2 separate regions of the Homo sapiens genome follow, and region 2 is linked to region 1. The links come from fine-mapping of genetic effects on gene expression. A gene starts in region 1. The other region holds a variant in brackets. All regions are shown on one strand. Distances are from middle to middle.

Evidence for each region. PIP is the estimated chance that this variant, and not a neighbour inherited with it, causes the effect. A credible set is the group of variants that fine-mapping cannot tell apart.
Region 2: its variant is the best candidate, but not a certain one, in a credible set for the expression of TUBGCP6 in whole blood (TOPMed, PIP 0.65).

The regions. Positions count from the first base shown.
Region 1 is chr22:50,243,320-50,246,211 of GRCh38, forward strand. It overlaps TUBGCP6 (tubulin gamma complex component 6), which reads right to left and starts at 1,704. Exons shown (of 25, transcript NM_020461.4): 1 at 400-1,704. The coding sequence starts at 1,140. HDAC10 (histone deacetylase 10) reads right to left here. Exons shown (of 20, transcript NM_032019.6): 18 at 2,591-2,773; 19 at 2,356-2,508; 20 at 1,864-2,211. The coding sequence ends at 2,188. RefSeq lists enhancers at 293-1,223, 797-1,076, 1,487-1,536 and a silencer at 2,007-2,076.
Region 2 is chr22:50,191,477-50,194,368 of GRCh38, forward strand. TRABD (TraB domain containing) reads left to right here. Exons shown (of 10, transcript NM_001320485.2): 2 at 1,551-1,617; 3 at 2,100-2,178; 4 at 2,864-2,892. The coding sequence starts at 1,585. Among named protein-coding and RNA genes, the nearest start is that of TRABD, 7.0 kb to the left of the region's middle. RefSeq lists enhancers at 134-283, 1,044-1,093, 1,174-1,263 and a silencer at 434-483. The variant C/T (reference allele first, on the strand shown) is at 1,379.

The DNA.
Region 1 (2,892 bases):
CACCTAAATCCCAGCTACAGCTACTCGGGAGGCTGAGGTAGGAGAATCACTTGACCCCGGGAGGCGGCGGTTACAGTGAGCCGAGATCGCGCCACGGCACTCCAGCCTGGGCAACAGAGCAAGACTCCATCTCAAAAAAAAAAAAAAATTAAGCCGGGCGTGGTGGCAGGTGCCTGTAATTTCAGCTACTCGGGAGGCTGAGGTACGAGAATTGCTTGAGCCCAGAAAGTGGAGGTTAAGGTGAGCCAAGATCGCGCCACTGCACTCCAGCCTGGGTGACAGAGTGAGACACTGTCTCAAAAAAAAAAAAAAAAAGAAGAAGAAGAAGAAGAAGAAAGGTCACAGGAAGCATTTTCCAAACCCCGAGAGAGATGAAAGAGGAAAAACTAAACATTCTACCTTAATAGCCAGCCCAGAGAGGTCCGCATTGTCTGGCACGGGGGGCAGGCCCAGTCGGACGTCCATGTCATAAGTGCGGCTGTGCACAAGGGCCCCGAAGAGCGAGACCCGGGTGTCTCTCTCGAACCTGTCACCACAAGGGTCACCAAATGAGAAGAGCCCGACGGTGGGCAGGCCAGTGCCTGGAGCAGCCTCCATAACCTGAAGTGTTTCCTGGATCATGCTGTGACACAAACACTCTTCTCTGGAGATCAGAGACTGAACGTCCATCTCAAACACACTCAGGTCGTCGCAATCATAGCCGCTGTACGGAACGTTTCTCCCCACATGCTTGTTGTTAAGGAAGTAGTCTCGTTTTCTCGGCAGAACTTGAGGGGGACCACTCCCTGCCAGCTGAACCAGGAGGTCCAAAACAGACCCCACCTCCAAAAGCGGACAGCAAGGGGCTGCTTCCAGCTCCTCCACAAGCTCCTCCAAACGGTCGGCCTTGGGGCCCAGGCCACCCACTCTCAAGTCAAAGGACAACATGAGGATCTTGTTTCTCGCTGGTAGTTTTGACATGTCAGGCTGCAGCTGTTGAGTCTCATCTTGAAAAAGATTTGTGAAAAGAGCATTGTAGGCCACCTTCTTGAGGCTCCGCTTTGCCCTCTTCCGGTTCACACTGCGCTGGCCCAGGTGAGTCTTGGCAGCCGGCAGGAGGGCCTCACACAGGTCGTCGAACAGCTGCGTGATGCTGGCCATGCCCCTTCTCAGCTCCGGGCCCCCGGCGTGTGGGAAAACACCTCACCCGGGCTTCACTCACGCTCCGGAAGACAGGGAGTGAGAGAGGGTCCGAAGAGGCTGAATGACAGGCGGCCTCTCCAATGCCGAAGCTCAGAACTGGTATTTTTTAAAGGAGGTCTTGCGGTTGCTCTACTCAGAGTAAACACGCCCTGCCCTCCCCAGTCCAAGCACGCTGCCCGGCGCCCGGCAGCCCACCAGAAGCCAGCTCGGCGTTTCTTCTAATTCAGTAGCCCTCAACCTTTAGGGAGTCACAGAACCGTGGCAAAACCGAAGAACGAAACGCGCGCCCGCGCAGTACAGCGGACGAACTCGGCTTTGCACCCGTTCTTCGGGACCCACGAGAGGAGACGGCCAGGAGAGGGTGCCACTCCGAGGGTCGTGGGCAGCGGAGAGTCTGGGGGCTCAGCCGGGTGGGTCCCGGGTTCTGGCCTGCACGTCCACCCGTTCTCCAGGCCTCACCCGTGGAAAGTGCCCACGGCTGCCGCTCTCGCCGCCTCCGTCGCGTCACAGCCGCGCCAGTGTGAAGAGCACTAGGGCGGGCGCGCCGGAAATACGTCACGGGAACGCCGGCAGCGCGTGAAGTTGGTGAGGCCTGGGCCGCGGCATACTTCCGGCCTGAGTCCGGCACCGCGGGTGAGAGACCGAGGCCGAGCGTGCTCAGTAAAGGAGGCAGAGCCAGCGTTTCGTTTGAGCGATGTTTACTAACGGCGCAAGGGCGGGGAGCGAAGCGCAGCGGGGCGCAGGGGCCGGAACGGGACCGAGCGTGGGTTGCATGGGCCTCGATGGGACGGGCCGGGGCGCGATGGGTGGGGCGGGGGCGAGGTGAGGTGAGGGGTGGAGCGGGGGAAGCACGGGTGGGAGAGGGCGGGGCGCGGGGATTGGGAGTGGGCGGGGTTCCGTGCCCCAGAGTCGAGGGAGCCGTGGGCTTGGGGTCCGGATCGCGGCCGCGGGGCGCTGGCGTGCGGTGTCATTTCTGCGGTGTAAATGCTCCCACCTTGGCCGATTTCAAGCCACCAGGTGAGGATGGCACTACAGGAGGAGCCGAGAAGAGGCGCGCAGTTGGCCTCCGGCGCTGGAGCTGGTTCAGGGCACTCCCCTGCCCTGCCCTCCCCACCGATCTGTGCGGCAGAGCCAGGCCCCAGGGCAGGGCCATGCCTCCGCAGTCAGCCTCACCTGCAACATCTTCCACTGAGGCTCCAGCTGCCCTCTCAGGTACATCAGGGCCTGGACGTCCTCTGGGGAGGCCACAGAGGAAGGGCCTAGGCTAGGAGGTGCCTCTCCATTCAGCACCCGGGCCAGGATCCCTGCTAGCTGGGGTGTGGAGTTCTGGACCAGGGGCGAAGACGGAAGCAGTCACTGGTCCTTTCCCTCGTCCCACCCCGCAGCACCTCCACCCTGCCCAGCTTACCTCCTCCAGGAGGGCCAGGACTCGGCCCCCTGCCAGCCCCCGAAGCATTGCAGCCAGGAGTGCAGCGTGGGGGCCCTGCAGGCCATGGCCAGGCCCCAGCGCCACCAGCACCAGGTCAGGCTGGAAGCCATAGGCCAGGGGCAGCACCAAGCCCAAGATGCAGCTCAGGAAACCACCGGTCATCTGTGGGGACAGCAGAGCCCAGCTCCTCATCTACGGACACCTGCTGGCTCTGGCCTCCCAACCTCCCAATCTCAGGGCCCCTGGAGTAGGAGCAGGGAGACAGGAAGGACCAGAGGCCT
Region 2 (2,892 bases), 52 kb before region 1:
GGAAAGGAACCTGACATAGCGTCTTATTGCTCATTGTTCCTTTTTCTTATGAGTTCTGAGAAGTGGGCAGCAGTAGTGACATGAAAATGACCCCAGATGCACGCAGGCATCAGTGCAGAACCCGGCAGTGGCCCCTCTGAAGCACATCCTACAAGCCCCGTCGTTTCCTCGCCAGATGCTCGTGTCTGACTGACGCAGACGCTTCAAGACAAAACCACAATACCTTGCACGACTAGACAGCTCAGAATGGTTTCCAACGGCTCATTTTTATTTTTTACTTTTGTTTTTTTCTTGAGACAGAGTCTCCCTCTGTCACCCAGGTTGGAGTGCAGTGACAGGATCTCGGCTCACTGCAACCTCAGCCTCTCGGGTTCAAAGTGATTCTCCTGCCTCAGCCTCCCCAGTAGCTGGGATTACGGGTGTGCACCACCACGCCTGGCTAATTTGTGTATTTTTGGTAGAGATGGGGTTTCACCAGGATGGTCTATGTTGGCCAGGCTGGTCTCGAACTCCTGAGCTCAGGCAGTCCATCCACCTTGGCCCCCCAAAGTGCTGGGATTACAGGTGTGAGCCACCGCGCCTGGCCTGTTTGGGATATTTTAATGATTCTGCCTGGTGACACATCCATCCGCCAGGACATGCATGAGCCATTAACTTGGTAAACAGTCACTCCTGGCATTCCGTGGCTGAGAACATTCAGGAAGAGCCACATGGTGCAGCAGGGCCTGTGGCCAGTCTCAGGACAGCCTGCTGGTCCCTGGCCCCGCCTCGAGGGGCTCCGCGCAGGTCTCGCCGATGCTCTGTGGGTCTTGGCCGGTGCGTGCCTCTGGTGCTGCAGGCGCCTGGCTGTTTTCTTCCTTCCCTCAGGCTCCTGGGCCCCCGGCCTGAGCTCCTGGTTTCTGAGAGTCTGTGGGGAGCTGTGATGCCTCGGGGCAGCCCCCTCGTGTGGCTGCCCCAGCCTGTCCGGGTTTCTACCGTGGTTCCTTCCACACCATGTTTGTCTCTTAAAGTGGGAGAGAAGGTCTTAGGTCCAAACACGTTGATTTGTGTGCTTTGTGGATTCCTCCGTCTGTACTGACTCTGTGCCGGTGTTGTTGCCCAGGCTGTAGTTACTGAAAGGGGAAGTGGCTTTTGTACAAAGGCCCTGGGGTCCTTGCCATGTGTCAGCAGCTGCGTTGCTGTGTCCTGAGATCATGTGTGGACCCCAGGGCTGCCTTCCTATGTGTGCCCGCCGTGCCGCAGTGAGGGTTGGGCAGCTCTGGCCCTGTTCTGAGTGAGGCCTGTGCACCAGCAACCCGCCCTGGGCCCGTCTGCGTTTGGTTTATGCTGGGGTGTCTGGGGACCTGCTGGCCTTTCCCCACCCGGGCCTGACCTGAAC[C/T]GACCCTGGACCTCAGCAGCCTTTGATGGGCAGGAGGCATTTGGGGATATGGGGGAAGGAGCCCCCAGGCCCACCCAACAGATGGTTCTAGACTGACAGGGCACTACGCAGTGAGTCCTGAGCCAGGTCTGGGGCTCCAGGTGGAAACCCCGCCTCTCATGCCTCTCCTCAGGCTCCCCACAGGTGCAGGAAGCCGCCGCCCAGCCATGGACGGGGAGGAGCAGCAGCCACCGCACGAGGTGAGGTGGAGGCTGGGCTGGCTGCACAGAGACAGGGGCGGGGGGCTTCCCCGCTTTGTGGGCTCTCGGGGTCGGTCCCTGGCTGTTGTTCTGCAAAGGTGATCTTCACAGGGTTCTCCAGGGTCAGGCAGGAGGCACCTCCGAGGGAGAGGGGCGCTGGGCTGAGGTGGCCTGGTGGCCCTGTCTGCCCAGCTTGATGGCAGCCGTGCCAGTGATGGCCAAGCAGGAGGGGTACTGACAGTGTGGGGCCTAGGCTCTACGGAGGCCCTGCTTTTCAGGGTGTGTGGTACACAGAGCGGCCACGGGTCCCTTTCCCGGGTACGTGGTCCGTGGAGCGGTCACGGGCCCTCGTTTTTCAGGGTGTGTGGTCCACACAGCGGCCACGGGTCCCTTTCCAGGGTACGTGGTCCGTGGAGTTGCCACGGAGCCCTGGCTTTCTGGGGTGCATGGACCCTGACTTGAACTCTCCTTTCCACCTGCAGGCCAACGTGGAACCTGTTGTGCCGTCAGAGGCTTCAGAGCCGGTGCCCAGGGTGCTTTCTGGAGACCCCCAGAACCTGTGTACGTGTCCCTCAGGGTCCTGGCACGTTCCCCGGTGTTGGGCTGTTGAGTCAGGGAGGAGGGGGAGGCAGCCAACCACTGCCAGGGGCTTGGAGCTTGTGGTGAGCAGGGGCCCTGGCCGAGACCTGAGGTAGGTGCTGCTAGGCCTGGTGCCACCCAACAGCAGCTGCTCCTGGGCCCTGCCTGGCAGTGGAGCCTCTTGGAGGGGCTGCAAGCAGCACAGGCAGGCCCCTGGGCATGGGGGGCTCGTGAGCACAAGCAGTGTGAGCGGCACGGGAGTCCCTCCTTGCTGTGGCCTCAGCCTGTCCCTCCTGAGTGGGGTGGGGGGGCCCATTTCGCCTCAGAGCCCCTCCCCTAGCTGAGCCCCCTGCGGCACCTGCCCCCACTGTCCCCCACACCGAACCTCATCCACAGCAACCCCCAAGGTCGCCCTCATGGGGTGTATGGGGCACAGGACTCCTGAGGCCCTGGCTTCTCGAAGCCGTGCAGCTCACAGAGGTGGTAGCCGGTGTTCCCATCACTGGGCAGGCAAAGCCTGTGGAGTGTGACGCTCGTCAGGAGTCTTGTGCTCTGCACCTGTTCAGTTCTCAGAACCCAGGAGGGTTCTAGAGCCCAGGCTGCCAGCGGGCCCGGCGGCGTCCTTGGGGTGGGCCCGGCACCACAACGGCCTGTGCTGCTGTTGCAGCCGACGTGGACGCCTTCAACCTGCTCCTG